Regions from separate parts of the Homo sapiens genome. Here region 2 is linked to region 1. The links come from fine-mapping of genetic effects on gene expression. A gene starts in region 1. The other region holds a variant in brackets. All regions are shown on one strand. Distances are between the middles of the regions.

Region 1 (11,056 bases):
AGAGAAACCAAACATATTTCATGCCATTCTACTCAGTGCATGGGATTAATGAGAAAGGGATTTGACAAAGAACGATAGCCATTCATTCAGCAAATATTTGAGGGTGGCTGGGCATGGTGCCTCACACCTGTAATCCCAGCACTCTGGGAGGCCAAGGCGGGCGGATCACGAGGTCAGGAGATCGAGACCATCCTGGCTAACACAGTGAAACCCCGTCTCTACTAAAAATTCAAAAACTTAGGCTGGGCGCAGTGGCTCACACCTGTAATCCCAGCACTTTGGGAGGCCGCGGCGAGTGGATAACGAGGTCAGGGGTTCGAGACCAGTCTTACCAACATGGTGAAACCCTGTCTCTACTAAAAACACAAAAATTAGCTGGGCATGGTGGCAGGTGCCTGTAATCCCAGCTACTCAGGAGGCTGAGGCAGGAGAATTGCTTGAACCCGGGAGGCGGAGGCTGCAGCGAGCAGAGATCGCGCCACCGCACTCCAGCCTGGGCGACAGAGCGAGACTCCGTCTCAAAAAAAAAACAAACAAACAAACAAAAAAAAAACAAAAAAAGAAATATTTGAGGGCATTCTGAGTTTCAGATATTCTGCTAGCAGTGAACAAGAATGGGGAAGTCCCTGTCTTTATGAAATTTACATTTGAGAGTTTGCGTGTGTGAATGAGGAGAACACCAATCAATATACAAATAAACATACAAATAAAACAGTAAATAAAGCTAACATGATAGAGTAACTAGGGGCATATTTAAAACAGGATGGTCAGAAACAGCCTCCAAGGAAGTGACATTTGGAAACAGACCTGAAGGATAAGGAACGAGCTATACATTTGGCAGACACTGAGACGAGCATGTGCAAAAGCCCTGAGGTAAGACAGACCAAGAACAAAAAGGAGGCCGGCATGTACACGACACGGGGAGTGTGGGGAGATGATCTAAGACAATGCTGGAGAGGCAGGCGGAAGCCAGTTACACACAGCCCTTGGGTGCCATCAGCAGGAGTTGGAATTTTATTCAAAGTACAAAGGAAAATCACTCATGCGGGAGTATCACTAGCAGGGGAATGAAATGATCTGGGATGTTTTTCTTTTCTTTGTTTTTTTTGGCGGTGGGGGGTTGGGGGATGTTTTCCAAAGGTCAGTCTGGCTCCATGGTGGAGAGCGGATGGTAGAATTATAAGAAAAACAGAGTTGACTTCCTAGGCTCAAGTGATCCTCCCACCTTGGTCTCCCAAAGTGTTGAGATTACAGGCATGAACCACTGCCCTTGGACAAGGCAGGGTTTTAACAAACTTAATCTATCAGCAAAACAGATGACTGTTCAAGTTTCAAGAAACTGAAGAAGAAAGCACCTACTGGCTGTCCATGCAGTCATGTGTACAGGAGGATGAGGACTTTGAGACGAGAGGCGGTAGACAAGGGGGCCTTAGGGTAGCTCACTGCTAGTCATCTCCTTACCGCCTCCACTGCCAGCCACAGGACCCACAGATGCTCCACAGTCAGCACAAATTGTCCAAGGCCAAGGTATCTATGTCCATCCATCAGAGATGACTCTCAGAATTGCAACCAATGCAAGCACAGACTGTGTCCAGGCAGACATCCCATCCAACTGGAGACAAATTGTCTTGGCCACCTTGTGGTTGCCACCATGCCTCTCATCCCTGGTCCCTGTTAAGCACCATCTCAAAACAGAAGCTTCTCTACCCGGCTAGTCTTTCCATAATCTCATCTCCACGTGACCAATTTATTTCCCGTGGCCCAAGCTCTCTTTGCTTTCCTCTCCTTCAAGCCCCTCTACTGCACCCTCCAGAATACCTTTCCCAAAGGTAAACACCCACCCCTTTGCTGACATTCTCTCTACCCTCTGTCCCAATGGCAACACAGCTCTCCTGGGGAACTGCTGCTGCCAAATGGCCAGCCCCGTCCCATTGACCTCACTGTCAACCTCCTGGCTTCTGACCCGTGACCACTCGGTTATACTTGAAAACTGTCCTGCTCCTTGGTGGCTTAGGCTAGCACATGTTAAGCCACAGGCAGACCTCTGTCTGTATTCAGGTTCAGAGCCCAGCTATTCCTCTCTCAACCTTCAATTTCACCTCCTTTCTTCCCTCATTCTAAGCAGATAACCTGGCTCATCTCATTCCCTGAAACCCTTCCTATAGACCCACTTGCATCTGCAACCATCTCTTCCTTCCTTCTTTTATCCACTGGAAAGTTAATCTCCCCCAAGGGCCCTGGATCCCACTTCCTCCTCTCTTCTCTTGACCCTAGCTCCATCAACTGCTATCTCTCTTTCATGTACCTGCAACGTTTCCCTCCCTTTTTGCTGCTTTTCCTCAGCAATTTTTTTTTTTTTTTTGAGACAGAGTCTCACTCTGTCGCCCAGCTGGGAGTGCAGCGGTGTGATCTCGGCTCACTGCAACCTCTGCATCCCAGGTTCAAGCAATTCTCCTGCCTCGGCCTCCTGAACAGCTGGAACTACAAGCACGCGCCACCACGCCCAGTTACTTTTTGTATTTTTAGTACAGACAGGGTTTCACCATGTTGATTAGGCTGGTCTTGAACTCCTGACCTCAGGTGATCCACTGGCCTTGGCCTCCCAAAGTGCTGGGATTATAGGCGTGAACCACCACACCCACCTTAATGACTTTCTGATGCCCTCAGGAAAAAGGCAAAACTCTTTTCATATCAAGTGCAAGATCCTTCACACTCTGGTTCTTATCTGTGGTCTCATTTCTCCTTTCCTCACACTCTGACCAAACCAGACTGAACAACCTGTAATTCGTCAAACATATCAGGTGAGGCGTGAGTGTTCTATTCGGCTCCAGGTTCTGTGCATGCTGTTCCCTCCTGGCATGGTTCCTGCCACCTCTCCCCCAAATACAGGTAATCTCCTCAGGTCACAGCCTCTTTGACATCTTATTTATTTTTTTTGAGATGGAGTCTCGCTCTGTCGCCCAGGCTGGAGTGCAGTGGTGCGATCTCAGCTCACTGCAAGCTCTGCCTCCTGGGTTGATGCCATTCTCCTGCCTCAGCCTCCTGAGTAGCTGGGACTACAGGCACCCACCACCATGCCTGGCTAATTTTTTTTTTTAATTTTTAGGAGAGACGGGGTTTCACCATGTTAGCCAGGATGGTCTCAATCTCCCGACCTCGTGATCCGCCTGCCTTGGCCTCCCAAAGTGCTGGGATTACAGGCATGAGCCACTGTGACCGGCAAATAATTTTTAAAGCTAATATTTTTATAAGTAGTTACAATGCACCAGATACTGCCTATATATATAACTAATTTAATCCTCACAACCTTATGAGGTAGATACTAGCATTTCTATTCTACACTTGAGGAAACAGGCACAGATAAGTGGAAGTGACTCACCCAAGGTCCTACCAAACTGTTGAGTAGCAGAACCCTGCCAATTTGGCATTAGTGGCCGGCTATTTAATCATGACTCCACGCTACCTTTCAAATAAAAGCAGATGGTAAGGAAAGGACAGCTGTGAGGACTGAACCATTAAGCACATTCCCCTAACAGAGAAAGGGAATTGCAAAGGTGGCAGAACAAACACAGTAACAGATGAGTTTTAAGGTGGAATTAAAAAAAAAACTTTAGGCCGGGCGCCATGTCTCACGCCTGTTATCTCAGCACTTTGGGAGGCCGAGGCGGGTAGATCATTTGAGGTCGGAAGTTGGAGACCAGCCTGGCAAACATGGTGAAACCCCGTCTCTACCAAAGATACAAAAAATTAGCTGGGTGTGGTGGCACGCACCTGTGGTCCCAGGTACTCATGGTGCGGCCACCATTGCATCTTGGGCCTCACTAACCAGTTCCCGTTTGTTGGATTCAATACTCTCTCACCACACAGGCCAATCTTGTGTTTTATTAATTTTTTTAATTTTTTTTTTTTTTTTGTAGAGAGGGGCTCACTATGTTGCCCAGGCTGGTCCTGAACTCCTGAGGTAGGAGGATCGCTTGAGCCTGGGAGACAGAGGTTGCAGTGAGCCGAGATTATGCTACTGCACTCCTGCCTGGGTGACACAGTGAGACTCTGTCTTAAACAAAACAAAACAAAGAAAGGCCAGGCGCAGGGGCTCACACCTGTAATCCTAGCACTTTGGGAGGCCAAGGTGGGTGGATTATTTGAGGTCAGGAGTTTGAGACCAGCCTGATCAGCATGGTGAAACCCCGTCTCTACTAAAAACAGAAAAATTAGCCAGGTGTCGTGGCTTGCACCTGTAGTCCCAGCTACTCAGGAGGCTGAGACAGGAAAATTGCTTCAACCAGGGAGATGGAGGCTGCAGTGGGCAGATTCGCGCCACTGCCTGGGTGACACAGTGAGACTCCATCTCAAAAAAGCCCAGGGTGCTTGGCGCCAAAAAAGGGATCTCTGACCTTGTGTTCATTATGACCTTCAAAAGAGTGAAGTGGTGAGGGCATGAGGGCAGAGGAAAAGAAGGGCTTAAGACAACGAAGGAAAAGAAGGCACCAGAGTCTAGTGCCTTTGCCGCCAAACCTAAACCTATAAGGTTGGCAGCAAAACCAAAGCACAAACTGATAACAAAGGAGGTAAAGCCAGGGGAGAAGAAACTGAAGACGTCAAAGACAGAAATGAAGCACATCATCTGGTTTAAAACAAATGATAGAGTTTTTACAGTTCTGGAAAATGACCGTATAATATTCTCTGCTAAGAAGAATAACTTCTGCTAAACAACCATAAGACTGCAGCTGGCTCTACTCAGATCTGCTTATTCCAACAAGACCAAGGTGCTAGTTCTAACTTCGAGTTGTCCCTCTGTATGGCTGCAGCGTTGCGCACAGTGGACTGCCGGTCACAAGGAAGACTGGATGAGCGTGGGTTCACACAACATTTCCCACACTTGCCTCAGCAAAAGAACCACCTGGGACACTTGTTTAAAAATGACAGATTCCCACGGTCCACCTCGGCAGATTCTGATCCTGCCACTCCAGGGAGCTGTATTTTTCAACAAGTACACCAGGTGATCACGCAAGTTTAAGAAATTAACACAAGTTGGCCGAGCGCAGTGGCTCACGCCTGTAATCCCAGCACTTTGGGAGGCTGAGGCGGGAGAATCACGAGGTCAGGAGTTCGAGACCAGCCTGGCCAACATAGTGAAACCCCGTCTCTACTAAAAACACAAAAATTAGCCGGGCGTGGTGGCGCACACCTGTATTCCCAGCTACTTGGGAGGCTGAGGCAGGAGAATTGCTTGAACCCAGGAGGCAGAGGTTGCAGTGAGCCGAGATCGCGCCACTGCACTCCCGCCTGGGCGACAGAGTGAAACTCTGTCTCGGAAAAAAGAAAAAAAAAGAAAAAAGAAATTAACACAAGTCCCTGCCACTGGAAAAGCTTATCCGTCAGGCTGGCTCCTCCTCCACCACCAGACCCCATCCCGGTACATCACGTTTACATGCATGCGGAAAATGGGCTTGGAGATTCTTGATTCAAATCCGAGGTATCACACATCGGCCCCCAAAGGTCAAACATTAAGAAGGAAGCTTACTGCCCTGTCCCAGATTTTTCTAGGTGACTTCTTCCTCCGGACTCTGCAGCAGTCTTTAGTTCTAAAAGCACAAGCGGACCGCACGTCTCAACGCGGGAAAACAGTTCCATCTGCAGGGATGGAGGACCGGGCTAGACAAGCTGGAGTTGGCTCTGCGCCGCAGGGGTGTGCAAGCCCGAGACGGGGGAGCCCGAGGTCACCCCGGCCGCCCTGGCATCGGGGCTGAAGTGCAGGCTCCTGGAGGAGCGGTGCGCACGCCCAGGGGTAGCCGAGAACACAAGCCAAGGCACGAGCGGACAACCTTACGGGGACGAGTACTGGCGCCCGGACGCGACTTCGCGAGAGGCCAGGCGGAACCCACTGGAAGCGTGAGCTAGCGGGGACCACCCCCGGGCGAAACCAAAGGAGAAAGAGGGGAACCCAGGGGTCCCGGGGCGCTTAGGCCCGCGCGGACGGGGAGGCCAGAGTTGCCCCGAAGCTATCTCCTTACCTCACCGGTCCCCACGGGCTCCGCGCTCAGCTACAGCCCGGCGGGAGCAATGCGGCAGCCACAACAGTTGCCTGGGGTCGCCGCGGGCCGGAAAGCGGGGTTCGGGGATGGGAAGGGGGCGGGGCGAAGCGAGCAAAAAGTTCCGGGGAAGCCGAGACCGCGACCTTCCGCGCTTTACGGCCCCCGGGCAAGGGTACTGCCGGCGCGTGACCTCAGCAGCGCACGAGCGCGCCGTGACGCCTTCGCGGAGCCCCGCCCCTGCCACGTGGGCTTGTTTGGGTCTCGCGAGGCACCGCCCCCGCGGCCTCTTTGCCACCCTCAGAGGCGAGCTGTGGAAGCCTTGACTCTTAGGGCCGTTTTAGAACCGGGGCCTCGGACCGGCGGGGTTTCTGCACGTGGAACCGGAACATCTGAGATGATCGCAGGCCCTGTGGAGTGTGGGGAGCGCGGGAGTTCTTTCTTCCCTCGAGGCCCGTGCCAGGGCTTACTCCAAAGCCAGTGGGTCCCCAGTCCTAAGCCAAGCAGTCCCGGGGGAAAACGCTTCTCATCGCCGTGGGAGCGCGGATCTTGGAAGTGGCTCTGGGCTTTCTTGGGCGAGGCTCTCACAGAGTAGATCGGAAATCCATTCTGCTGGCCCGCCCCACCTCGGAGGACGGACTAACGGACCTGAGTTCCCGGCCCTATCTTACTCTTCTCAGCTTCTCAGCTTGGCTCAGCTCAGAGGAAGAGGAATCACTGAAGTCTCAGAGAAGTCTCCACTCATCCCTTCCTCACTGTCACATCAGCCTTTTCTTTCCTTCTAGAACTCATCACTGACTCAAGGATATAAGTTTGATGACTGTCTTTTCCACTGGTGTGACACGATCTCTGTCGACAGAACCTTAGTCTTATGCATAGCTTTATTCTCAGCACCCAGAACAGTGCCTGGCACCTCTTCCACTGAATATTATATGCATAAGGGTCTCATGCTGCAGCCACCATTGCATCTTGGGCCACACTATCCAGTTCCCGTTTGTTGGATTCAATACTGTCTCACCACACAAACCAATCTTGTGTTTTATTAATTTAAAAAAAATTTTTTTTTTGTAGAGATAGGCTCACTATGTTGCCTAGGCTGGGCCTGAACTCCTGGCCTCAAGTGATCCTTCCATCTCAGCCTCCCAAAGTCCTGGGATTACAGGCGTGAGCCACTGTGCCTGCCCCAATCTTGTGTTTTATTGCTGGCCACCTGTAGCCAGGCACTGTGCAGGATGATGGGATCCAGCAATGTACAAGAAAGAGGCGGTTTCTGCTCTTAGGGAGTGGCAGTCAAGTTCCAGGGACCCCTCTGTCACAAGGCCAGGCCACAGCCTACATAGTTTATACCCCATTTACTGGCCAGTCAAATCACACAAAGACAGCCCAGATGAGGTCTGCCAGACAGTGGACTGAAACTATGCCATAGGCTCCTGTGCTAGATAAATACTTCCATATTTTAGCTAGGATTGAATGCTTGGGGACACCTACCTGTCTAAAAAAAGAGAAAACGGCTGACCAATTTGAGACATTCTCGGGGAAGGCTTTCCTGATGCCCAGATGTGGCGATTTCATGAAAAATATCACAGGTTTTCCTCATGAACCATTTGGTTCAAGCCATTTCCAGGCACATGAATTTGGGAGAAACCTGGTTGTCTGCAGGAGATGGTGGATGAAATCAAGTGAAATACTTAATGTGTTGATTTCATTCTGTTTACGTGCAGTAAATAGCAAACAAATGGTGTAGATCTGTCCCTGATTTCCTTCTCCATCACCATGATCGGCCTCCACTCCAAAATGCTAAGTCAGGCTGGGTGCGGTGGCTCATGCCTGTAATGCCAGCACTTTGGGAGGCCAAGGCAGTTGGATCACGTGAGGTCAGAAGTTCGAGACCAGCCTGATCAATATGGTGAAACCCCATCTCTACTAAAAAATACAAAAATTAGCTGGGCGTGGTGGCACATGCCTGTAATCCCAGCTACTTTGGGAGGCTGGGACAGGAGAATTGCTTAAACCCAGGAGGCGGAGGTTGCAGTGAGCCAAGATTGTGTCACTGCACTCTAGCCTAGGCGACAGAGCGAGACTGTCTCAAAAAAAAAAAAAAAAGGGAAGTAAGTCCTAAGGCCCCTTTCATTGTCAAAGATGGGTCTTGTCCTTAGTAGGTTCTCATAACCACTGATGCACTATTTTTTCTAGGGGATTGAGTGTTTTTATTTTATTATTATTTTTTAGATGGAGGCTCACTCTGTTGCCCAGGCTGGAGTGCAATGGTGTGGTCTCGGTTCACTGCAACCTCTGCCTCCCAGGTTCAGGGGATTCTCCTACCTCAGCCTCCCCAGTAGCTGGGACTGTACAGGCGTGCGCCACCACGCTGGGCTAATTTTTGTATTTTTATTAGAGACAGGGTTTCGCTATGTTGGCCAGGCTGGTCTCAAACTCCTGACCTCGTGATCTGCCCACCTAGGCCTCCCAAAGTGCTGGAATTACAGGCGTGAGCCACCGCGTCCAGCCTATTTTTATTTTTTGAGATTAGCTCTCACCCTGTCACCCAGGCTGGAGCACAGTGGTGCAATCACGGCTCACTGCAGTCTTAACTTCCTGGGCTCTAGCGATTCTCCCACCTCAGCCTCCCGAATAGCTGAGACCTCAGGCGCGTGCCACCGTCCCCAGCTAACTTTTGTATTTTTTGGTAGAGGTGGGGTTTCACTATGTTGCTGAGGCTGGCATTAAACTCCTGACCTCAAGAGATCCACCTGCCTTGGCCTCCCAATGTGCTGGGATTAGAGGCATGAGCCACCATGTCTTGCCCTAAACAGACGTTTTAATTACGCTTGTCAAGTCCTCTTGTGAAATCTTCATCTGCAGTGACTTGGTAAATGTATTTGCTACCACACAGGATAAACAGTGTACAGACAAACATTTGACATACCTATGTTACCACAGTGTAAGAATGAATTTGGATCTGAGGTCGCTAAGATGCAGGCGTTTATCTTACCTCCCTGCAGCACCGGCATGGCTGTGGGGAAGGCCTCCCTCCTCCCTCTGAAGTTCTTGTCCCCATCAGTAGACTGGACATCTGCCTACAACCGACTTCACAGAAAGGACCTGACACCTGGCATGCTTCTCGTGTGCTTGAGAGCCTGTGTTTGTGTGGAAAGCAGGGATGTTCTCATTCACACCATGGGAAGAGAAGAATGTTGCGAGTAGCAATCAGTACTCTTTTTTTTTTTTTTTTTTTTTTTTTTTTTGTGAGACGGAGTCTTGCTTTGTCACCCAGGCTGGAGTACAGTGGCGCGATCTCAGCTCACTGCAAGCTCTGCCTCCCGGGTTCACGCCATTCTCCTGCATCAGCCTCCTGAGCAGCTGGGACTACAGGCACATGCCACCATGCCCAGCTAATTTTTGTATTTTTAGTAGAGACGGGGTTTCACCATGTTGGCCAGGATGGTCTCGATCTCTTGATCCACTGCGCCCAGCCAGGAACTTCTTTTTTTTTTTTTTTTTTGAGACGGAGTCTTACTGTGTCGCCAGGCTAGACTGCTGTGGTGCGATCTCGGCTCACTGCAACCTCCAACTCCCTGGTTCAAGGGATTCTCCTGCCTCTGCCTCCTGAGCAGCTGGGATTACAGGCGTGTGCCACCACACCCAGCTAAATTTTGTATTTTTAATAGAGATGGGGTTTCACTATGTTGGCCAGGATGGTCTCGATCTCCTGACCTTGTGATCCGCTCGCCTCGGCCTCCCAGAGTGTTGGGATTACAGGCGTGAGCCACTACACCCGGCCTGGAACTTCTCTCTCTTTTTTTTTTTTTTGAGACGGAGTCTCGCTCAGTCACCCAGGCTGGAGTGCAGTGGCACCATCTCGGCTCGCTGCAAGCTCCGTCTCCTGGGTTCACGCCATTCTCCTGCCTCAGCCTCCCGAGTAGCTGGGGCTACAGGCGCCCACCACTATGCCCGGCTAATTTTTTTGTATTTTTAGTAGAGATGGGGTTTCACCATGTTGGCCAGGCTGGTCTTGAACTCCTGACCTCAAGTGATCCGCCTGCCTTGGCCTCCCAAAGTGCTGGGATTAGAGGCATAAGCCACCACACCCAGCCTCACTAGTTTTATTATCCACTGACTCGACTTGCTTGAGACGATTTTACTATGGTGGTTATCAAATGGTAACTTTCTAATTCTGTAATTCCTTCTGTGTTTATTAGCTCAAGGTCTATGGGATGCAGTGTTGATAGGGTTCTGTCTACTTCACTTGCCTCTGTTCCCAGGGCCTAGCTCTCCAAGTCTTTCAACTGAAATCCCGTAGTATACCCCAGGTTCCCTCCTTTTGAGAGATCTTGAAAACTGTCTACTCAGCTCATTGCAACCTCTGCCTCCCAGGCTCAAGCGATTCTCCTTCTTCAGCCTCCTGAGCTGGGATTACAGGCACACGCCACCATGCCTGGCTAATTTTTGTATTTTTAGCAGAGATGGGGTTTCTCCATGTTGGCCAGGTTGGTCTTGAACTCCTAACCTCAAGTGATCCACCCACCTTGGCCTCCCAAAGTGCTGGAATTACTGATTTCTTTCTTTCTTTTTTTTTTTTGAGACAGGGTTTCACTCTGCCGCCCAGGCTGGAATGCAGTGACGCAATCTCAGCTCACTGCAGTGACGCGATCTCAGCTCACTGCGGTGAAGCGATTTGAGCTCACTGCAGCCTCTGTCTCCTCAGTTCTAGCGATTCTCGTGCCGCAGCCTCTCGAGTAGCTGGGATTACAGGCACCCGCCACCATTCCTGGGTAATTTTTTTACTCAGCACTGTGACTCTGCAAAATTCCGCTCTGCTTTAGAGAGGTCTAAGCTTAGTGTTTCAGGTTTGCATCTTGTGTATTCAGATTTCACCAGATGGCTTGAGACCTAGCCATCTATTCGAGGCCATTCAAGCCTCCAAATTTTGTCACTCCGGCTGGTGAGACTATAAAAACATAAAAAACCTGGATCCTCAGCCTCTGGCCAGAGTTGGCAAATGCAAGTGGCTGCAGGCTGTCAGC
Region 2 (9,717 bases), 46 kb before region 1:
TGTTGGGATTACAGGCGTGAACCACCATGCCAGTCTGGGTCGAGTATTTTATATTCATTAGTTGAGTTTCATAACAACCCTATAAAGTAGGCATCACTGTCCATTTTAAAACAAGTAAACAGAGGCCTAGGAAAAGTAACCACCCAAGGTCCTATACACCAAGGAAGAGGCAATGCTGGCATTCAGACCCAGGCCAGTAAACCCAAAGCCCCATGCCCTTGACCCACCACAACAATCTGGGATTCTGAGCTGCTTGAGTCAGGTGACACCCCAGATCTAAGCATCTGAAGGTCCCTAACTGTGGAGCCTTTCATGAGAACAAGCCACTGGAGGGTAAGCACACGTCGCTCTTCTCAGGGGAGGGTGTACTAAAGGAGCCTCATCTCACTCCCCCTGTGCCATGAAGGCCACACCAGGTGAGCACCCTTGGGAGGGAGACGCATAGCCTGACTGGGGTGCTAATGGGTCCCGGCACTGGGTTCTCCACATGAACAGTTGTGTGAATCCAGGAGGCTCAGATCACGTGCCACAGCGCCACCTACTGGCCTGCGAACAACAACATCGTCCTGTTGTAAAGTCGGCAAACAATCATTTAAAAATTTTCAGGCCGGGCGCGGTGGCTCACGCCTGTAATCCCAGCACTTTGGGAGGCTGAGGTGGGCAGATCATAAGGTCAGGAGATCGAGACCATGCTGGTCAACATGGTGAAACCCGGTATCTACTAAAAATACAAAAAATTAGCTGGGCGTGGTGGCGTGTGCCTGTAATCCCAGCTACTCGGGAGGCTGAGGTGGGAGAATCCCTTGAACCAGGGAGTCAGAGGTTGCAGTGAGCCGAGATCACGCCACTACACTCCAGCCTGGCGACAAAGCAAGACTCTATCTCAACAAGAAAAAAAAATCAAACATTTAAAATCCTTAAATCTTTTTTTCTTTTTGAGACAGAGTTTCGCTCTTGTTGCCCAGGCTGGAGTGCAATGGCGTGATCTCGGCTCACTGCAACCTCCACCTCCTGAGTTCAAGCGATTGTCCTGCCTCAGCCTCCCGCGAAGCTGGGATTATAGGCATGCGCTACCACGCCTAATTTTGTATTTTTAGTAGAGACAAGGTTTCTCCATGTTGGTCAGGCTGGTCTCGAATTCCCAACCTCAGGTGATCCGCCCGCCTCGGCATTCCAAAGTGCTGGGATTACAGGTGTGAGCCACCGCACCTGGCCTAAAATCCTTAAATCTTAAAAGACATTTTAAAGATTTTGCCCTCCACTTTTTGCCCATTCATTTAATCATCTGTTAAACACCAAACACCATGTGAGGTGTTGGAGTTTGGGAGAATTCGAGTCTTTCTCCGAGGGACTTACAGAAGGAGCAGGGCAGATAACCAAATAAAGACACATCAGAAACGGGTGTGTGAGGACCCCAAAGGGGCCATTCTCTTGGGGAAGGAAAGGCTCCACTGTGGGATGATGGTGGTCTTGGGCAGAGCTTTTGAAAGACAGGAGGGGCCAGGCACTGTGGCTCACACCTGTAATCCCAGCACTTTGGGAGGCTGAGGTGGGTTGATCACCTGAGGTCAGGAGTTCGAGACCAGCCTGACCAATGACCACCATAGTGAAACCTCGTCTCTACTAAAAATACAAAATTAGCCAGGCATGGTGGCGCATGCCTGTTATCCCAGCTACTCAGGAGGCTGAGGCAGAATTGCTTGAACCTGGGAGGCGGAGGTTGTGGTGAGCCGAGATCTCGCCACTGCACTCCAGCAGCCTAAGCAAGAAGAACAAAACTCCGTCTCAATCAATCAATCAAATGAAAGACAGGAGGTCTCTGTCAGGACAACTTGGGGGAGTGGGGGTCCATGTGATCCTCAATTTGCGACTTTCCACAAGCACAGGGGAGGGCTGCCAGGAGGCATTTTAGTGAGCAAATATGGGAGTGGGAGACCTCTCAGTGTGACTGGAAAGCAGGATTCGAGGTGAGATCCAGCTGTGGATGGCGAGCACGCACTCGGCTGCAGGACCCACATCACACGCAGCGCAGGCCGGAGCCCTGGGGCAGCGTGGCCTGCCACACCCTGGAGACCCTGGCTGGCCAGGCTAAGGACTGAGAGCTTTGTCTCACGACAAAGGGGAGTCCCTTGAGGGTTTCAAGGCAGTGAGTAAATTGACCTCCCCTGTTTTACAAAGACAACCCTGCAGAGGGAGGGGGGATGACATGAGAAGCAGGAAAATCAGTAAGAGATTGTTCTCGAAGTCAGGGCTGACAACCCTCTCTGCCACAGCAGCAGTGGTGGGGACAGTGAGGTCCGAACAGAGGAGAGGCACTGAGGAGACAGCCCTGTGAGGCTGGGTAATGAGCGGGAGGTGTAGGGAGAGGCGAGTGGGGAGACCAGGTGAGTCCCAGGTTTCTGGCGTGGTTGACTATTCCTGGAACTGGAATAGAAGGGGCTGATTTAGAAGACAAGATGAAGAGATTGTTGTAAACATGTTAACCTATGAGATTCTCAAAAGTACAAATACTTAAAAAAAAAAAAACTACTCAAAAATTACTTTGGGCCAGGCACAGTGGCTCACGCCTGTAATCCCAGCACTTTGGGAGGCCAAGGTGGGTGGATCACTTGAGGTTGGGGGTTTGAGACCAGCCTGGCCAACCTGGCGAAACCCCGTCTCTACGAAAATACAAAAATTAGCTGGGCATGGTGGCGCGTGCCTGTAATCCCAGCTACTCTGGAGGCTAAGGCAGGAAATCACTTGAACCTGGGAGTGGAGGTTGCAGTAAGCCAAGATCACACCACTGTACTCCAGCCTGGGCAAAAGAGCAAGACTCTGCCTCAAAAAAAAAAATTAGTGAACAGGTCAAGTCCAGGGACCAACTTGTGGATGGAAGCTGGTGTAGAAAAAGAGCACTGGTTGTTTCTCTCAGGGTTGTTTCCACAGGGTGAGAACACGACCCCCCTTGCTTTCCACACAAACCTGAGTGCACACGTGCCCGTGTGGAACATCAGGTGGCAGGTTCCTCCTGAGGTCAGCTGTAGGCAGAAGGCCGGTCGGAATTTCAGGAGGCGGGAAGCTTTTACCCCCAGCCACTCCAGCGCTGCAGGGAGGGTAAGATAAACACCTACATCTTCTCTACCCCCGTCCCCAAATCCTCCCTCACACTGGTACACACAGGGAGGTACACACTCTCCTCTGCACGCTGTTTATGCTTTGTGGTGGCAAACACATTTAAGTCACTACAGATGAAGAACATTTCACAAGCAGCCGTGCAAGAGTAGTTAAAATGTGTTTATTCATTTACAAACCCAGTAACATGAGAAGAAACTCAGTGGAAACCTTGCTTGGTGGAGACAGTGCACAGTGTTAGTGCCACATTCACAGGGGCAGAAATGCTCGGTCACCCTGTGCACCCAAAGTCACCCAGGATCTCTAGAAAAGATCCCACTTACTGAAGTGCCTCGGATGTCTTCAGGGCCAGATTGTAACTACACAGGAACAGGGAAGGGCTAAGCTGAACTGCAAATTGACAAACACAAACGATGAGTCACAGGACTCTACAGTAGTTACAATGGCATTTTTATATGTCCCAAGTGTTGACTGGAGAGTAAAGTGTTAACTGAGCTGCTAGAACACCCTTCACTGAAAGAGCTTTCTACCCCACGCCCATTGTTCCGAAGAAGGAGAGGCTATGTGGGGCGGATGGGAACCCACACACCGAGATGAACTTTTCTCTTTCTTCCAATCTGCACCCACCATCTGACATTCTGGAGTGTAAGGCACTAGAACCTGGCTTAGAGAATAGTGGGGCTCTAAGCTCCAGTTCTTGGTGTGCAAAGGAAATTCTGACATACATCTTTTGAAAGAGATGCTAAAAAACCCTCCCTATCTCCTGTAATTTCTGTCTTTGACAGACAGGAAAATAAGAAGGCAGAAGATGGTCTGCAAAGGATAAAAACAGGTGCATCTAAGAATGAGAAAAATGGCTCATGAAGAAATGTGTAACTCTCCAAGAGATGCAGACACTCTGCTCAGAGAAGTCAAGAACCATAAACAACTCTTCATGTTTCATGGACAAAGGGAAGGCAAAGGCATACAAAAATACTCAGTTGTCTTGAAAAGTGTACTGGTAGTGATCAGGGCTACAAAGGCGAGCCCTGTACTGACAATGGAGGAGCCTTACAACTCAGCACCTTAAATTGTTGGCCTGAAGTGGTGGCGGGGAGGGAGGCGCTGACGGAGAGACCCATGGCTCACCACTTATTGCGTGTACACAAGGCCTGGGGCAAGCCTCACAAGTCTACCATTTCTTCCACTCAACTGTGCTTCTCCTGAATCCATGTGCCTGAAATGACATATGCAAGGTGAACATTCTTTATACTGTGTTAATACTGCTTATATCAATGTTCGTGAGGGGTGTGTGGGGGATGGGGTGCAGCAGGAAAATTAGAATGGCAGGAGGTTCTTATTTATTATTAAGCACTGTTGACCAAACCTCTATCTTAGATTTTTTTTTTTTTTTTTTTGAGACAAGAGTCTCACTCTGTTACCCAGGCTGGAGTGCAGTGGTGCAATCTCAGCTCACTGCAACCTCTGCCTCCTGGGTTCAAGCAATTCTCCCACCTCACTGGGCCTCCCAAAGTGCTGGGATTACAGGAGTAAGCGACCACGCCCGGCCAACCAAACCTCTATCTTAGATGTTAAAGAAGACCCTTATTGACTACACTGGCCAAGAAGCAACAGAGATATAAAGCTGAATCTTGTAGCTAACCCCTGAAAGCAAGCCAACGCAAATTCCTCCGCCAGGCCAGTCTTCTAGTGCCAATATGGAGACTGTGGGCCACAGAAGATTCCCTTCTATTTCAGGTTCTCAAAAAGTGGTGTAGACTCAGGCAAATGCCAGGAAATGTGTCCATATGCCAGAGGAGACACAGAGCCAGAAATGAAGGCTATGGGTCCTGTCTTCAGTGAAACACTGAACGCTCTCGGAAAGCTCCCATCATTCTTGCATCGCTACTGCCACCAAGACGGTGGCAAGGGAGGAGGCTAACTTTCAAATGCATGCAACGGCAGGTAATATACTGTGGAAGCTGGAGGTTTACTTTTCATGTTTTAGTTACTTTCTTGCAAACAGCAGTCCAGGAAAGCAAGCAAGCAGGTAAAACTCCGGGTGTGCATGAGGAGATGATCCAAGGCCAGTGGGCCTCCCAGTGAGAACCAAACAGGAGTGGCCAGGCTCCACTCCTGGGGCCAGAGTGAAACCGGGGTTTAATCACTGGGCTATGTGGTCTCTGTGTCTCTGGCCTGAATGAGATCTCTTCAATGTCGGGGGACAGGGATCCCTGGAAGAGCGTGAAAAATACAGTGGTCACTGTGCAGTTCTCTCTGCTGGAGCCTGTCCTGCCATCATACAAGGTGCTGTGACAGCAATGCAAGGTGAAAGGAGATCAAATGGCCCAGCTCAGCAGTTAGTGTTTGTCCCTTTTTGCTCTTCAGAGTTCCTGAATGAGAGCTTTTCTGGCTTCAGTACCAATGATCACAGAAGGAACATCTTCCTGATGCAAGCTTAGATGGAAGTCAATGACCCTGGCAGTGCTAAGAACAGAAGTCACACGTGGCCTGACGATGAAGGGGAGGTAATTAAAGACATTTCAAGGGAGGGGAAGGCCCACGGAAAACTGGCAACCCTGGGTCTCCGTTTGAGGCCAATATACTTTGTGTTCCTAGGTTCAGATGGCATACACCGACAAGAGAAGGCAGAGACCATCCTTCGTGGTGAGCACAAAATGCTATGACAGGTAATTGCAGAGAGAAAAAAGCACCCAACTCTGTAAAGCCAAGTCCAGTCACCCATTCACAAGAGTCCAAAATCCTTCAAATCTCTAGGGACAGAAGACAAACGTGCTGCCCAGAATGAGCTGAGACACAAGGCAAACCCTTGGAAATGACACATGGATGAGGAGGCTGTGGTTGTCCCTCCTTATTCCTGCTGGATTTGCAGCCACGGCTCTGGATCTGGGGCATCTACTGGCCTCCCCTGTTCACTCAAGAGGCCACTGCCTCTCAGGAGTCCAGAATGCTCTGATATCTGACACCGGTGGTCAGGAAGTTATGCTGCCCTCTCCTCTTGAACAGCTAAGATGCTTGGACACTAGACAGAGGCAAAGCAGTTATGCCAGAAGCAGGGGAGAGTCATTCACTGTCAGATCTGTCTGTTCAAAGAGCTCACATTAGAC[C/G]AATCACAGAAAACCACCAGACTCACACAGCTTGTATTTGAATGAACCAGGAGAGACTTCAAGGATCAACTCTAAAGTGCTAGAAGAGAAATCTGTGTTTGGGGCACTGAATAAACAAGTGATGTCCTAGAAGATCAACACCCCATCAGTCTTAGGAGTATGACCCTATTCATGGACAAGGGGTTTCAATGGACAGCCTGAGTGCTCAGCCCCCCATCCTCCTCTCCTAGCAAGACAAGCAGTCTGTTGCTCAGAGGGGGAAACTGATGTCATTTAACAGGAGGTCAGGATTTCTGGTTCTACTTCAACAAACAGTGCATAATTTTGGACACAGCATCAGATTTCCTGACTTCTTACAAAGGACAGCTAATTAAAAACGTGTCAATCTGTAGTAATTAGTTGGAGATTAACAAGGGCAGAAGAGAATCCAAGTCTTAAAACTCTATGTGGGATACATTTCTGATGAAGCTTCTATTTGACTAATATACTGTGATGATGGCACTATTCGATTTTAAACTATGGAGACAGCTTTTATTATTTCGATTTGGATCCTGGTAAGTGGTGATACTGCTATGTAACAGTTAAAGCACAAATGTATTGCCATAGTTAAGGTTGAAGAGTTATGTCTATGTGTAACTAAATTCTTCTGGATTCAATTACAAATACGTTTTCCTTTACAAAGATGGCTTTGGAGGGGTGCAAATGCTACGTGTTTGGAAGAGCAGAGGAGGCCTGCAGCTCTCAGTCACCTGTCTCCATCTTCGGAGGTAAGTCTGCTCCCTGCTGGTAATGCCTGCATCTGCCCAAGGGCCTGTTCCTCCTCTCCCAAGGCCTTCACAGCTGGTGTTCACTGGTTGGCCCTCCAGCCGGCAACACCTCTCCTCCTCTCTGCCTAGAGGCAGCATCTCTCGGCTAGTTAAGTACATACTTGCTCCAAGACAACTAGACCCCCAAACAGAATTCTAATCATATGCTCCTCTAACAAGCCAACCAGAACCTTCCAAAAAGGTTTAGGCACTAAAGTCAGTAATCACTAGGAGTGGTCTAGTTGGGGAAGTGGCAAGAAATGTCTAGAAGGAGCCAGCGTAAGTGGGTAAACAGAGATCCCAAAGAAACACCAGAGAAGGCAGACACCTGAGCATTTTAAGCTGCTCTAATGAAATGGAAGGATGTCCCTTAATACACTTATAGACCTATCAGAGCTAATGCTTCCAAGATACCAACACGCCAAAGGCTAGAGTTTTACTAACCAAAATGTCTTATAGCAGTTTATTTGCACTTAAAAAAAGTCAGATTAGGGCAGTTGATATGCAAGGGGAAAATGAAGCATTGAGGCTGGACAACAGTCCATGATATCTAAGTTTCACCTTGGGAAAACAGAGACACTGCCTGAAAGCGCAGGGCACTTCTGGGCACCCACATTGTCTCCTGCTCCAGAGGATATGGAAGGGTGGGTGGAGGGAAACAAAGAGCCTGGGGGGAAAGGAGGAAAAGCGGTCTCTAGCCTTATGCAACGTACACCCTTTGGACTCAGAACTCTCAGTGGACTAACGTGGGTCACCTCTGTGTAGCTCTGCTCTGTGCTGGAGAGTCAAACCTGGAATTCCGGCAGCTCTCTGGAACTCAGCACAGCCCGCAAGGTTGAAAGGCCCAGGACAACACACCTGATCCCTTCCCCTCCCTATTCTAAAGGGAGAGAAACATGACTTTATGGGCCAACTGTGAAAGGGACAAGTGAGGCTGACCTGACAAAGTCAAACGCACTGGGAGAAGGGGAAGGAGGAACGGCTGAACTTTGGACAGCTGAGAGAAAAGCAGCATTGTTTCCATAGCAGAACACTCAGCATCACTGGTGGGGACTTTCTAAGGTCAGACCCTTTTGACTGGGAAAAGCAACACACAAGGCAATATGGTTTTTCCCTTTCAAACACTGTGGCTTACTTGTTTACTCAACTAAGAAAGAAAAAGCAACCTTATTATAGAGATTAGCAAGAGATGAAGAAAATTATAGGGAGGCTGCCCTGGCCCAAAGGTCTGCTAATGGCTTCTGCAGGGAGGATGAGGATGGTGCTAGGTTAACTGCTTGTCTCCACTACAGACCAGAGAACGTCCATGCGATGCCTCTTATCAGTGAGGTAGATAATCATCCTCTTGCCAGAGGTATCGAGTGCCAGCCCACAGCACAGCAGAACAGGAGAACGAGCTGCCGGGCTGCAGGCACGAGCTGCCCCTCAGGGCTGCATCCGACACACGGCAACCCCACCAGAACTAATAGGCTGCTCCAAGAAAATGGAACCCAAGGGAGAGGGACTCGTGCCCTGAGACCTGCACCACCCCGGCTTGCCCTGCCTTGAGATGCAGAATTTGAAAGCAGCTGTCACCATCACTCATGTCCACAGTGGAGCTTGCTTCTGTCCTGTCAGACATACCTCCTGCCACCACGAGAAGCTGAGTGAGGGGTGGGAAGGGAAGAAGAGCCCAGAGTGAATATTAGGAGGAGGAGGTGGAAGGGCAAGGAAGGCTGCAGAGCAAAAAAGTTTAAAGTAGGTCAAGTTCAAAATTATATCAAGGAGATAAGAGATGGGAGGCAAAGGCTCCAGAAGAGGAACAGAGGCGGAAGGAAGAGAAGCTCCAAGGTGACGCCCACTCTAGGACAAGATGATGGGGAGGAGGTGAGGCTGCCCTGGTGGCATCACTTCCCATGTAAGTCACTCAGCTCCATGTCATCCTTTCGGCGCTTCTGGGTGAAGAGGGAGGCGACAGGGTAGAGCTTGGCCTTGGCCTGGAAGCGGTATCCCGCGATGTCAATCTCATACTCTCCCCGGTTGATGAAATCTGCTGTCACCACTTGCTCTTCCCCCGTGTCCTCAGAAAAATTGTGCACAAAGCCCAGGCAAACGTGGCGCTCCAGGCTGTAGCTGTAGGCACTGCTGGTGGTCTTGCCAACATACTGCCCATTCCGGTAAATGGGCTCTCCCCACCAAGGCCAAAGGTCTAGGTCTGAATCATGGTCGTCCAGGATGAACATGGTGAGGCGTTTATACACTCCATTCTGCTTCTGCTGCAGGAGGGCGTCGCGACCAATGAAATCCATGCCCTAAGAAAGAAAGGAAACGCCGAGTCATCCAGCGACACTCAGACCCTCGGCACAGAGAGCAGCACCGTGGGAAGGGTCCCCTGGTGTCACTGCAATGGGGCACAGCCGCCTCCTCCCACAACCCTGCCAGCTTTTGGGAAACTGTGCGATTTCTACCATGTGAAAAACTGCATGTGAAATATAAAAGACGCCGCGGTAATTTTTGTAACAACAGAGGTACGCATTTTGTTTCCTATTTTATAAACATAAAGTCACAAGACCAGATAGAACAAAAACGTTTAGGAAGAAAACTCACTCACTTAATAAAATACCTTATCAGTCCAGTACTTTAGAAAAATGTTTTTATATTGGCCAGTCGTGGTGGCTCACGCCTTGAACAGAGATGAGGCAAACCTCATC

The links. PIP is the estimated chance that this variant, and not a neighbour inherited with it, causes the effect.
Region 2: its variant is fine-mapped to the expression of PDPR in tibial nerve (GTEx, PIP 0.98). The same link has a PIP of 0.9 or more in whole blood.

The regions. Positions count from the first base shown.
Region 1 is chr16:70,109,399-70,120,454 of GRCh38, reverse strand. PDPR (pyruvate dehydrogenase phosphatase regulatory subunit) reads right to left here and starts at 6,123. Exons shown (of 19, transcript NM_017990.5): 1 at 6,015-6,123; 2 at 5,525-5,634. RefSeq lists enhancers at 4,647-5,589, 6,110-6,159.
Region 2 is chr16:70,156,076-70,165,792 of GRCh38, reverse strand. It overlaps PDPR (pyruvate dehydrogenase phosphatase regulatory subunit), which reads right to left. Exons shown (of 19, transcript NM_017990.5): 19 at 3,256-9,318. The coding sequence ends at 8,914. LOC400541 (a long non-coding RNA gene) reads left to right here. Exons shown (of 3, transcript NR_126007.1): 2 at 6,904-6,988; 3 at 9,289-9,453. Among named protein-coding and RNA genes, the nearest start is that of CLEC18C, 13 kb to the left of the region's middle. The variant C/G (reference allele first, on the strand shown) is at 6,222.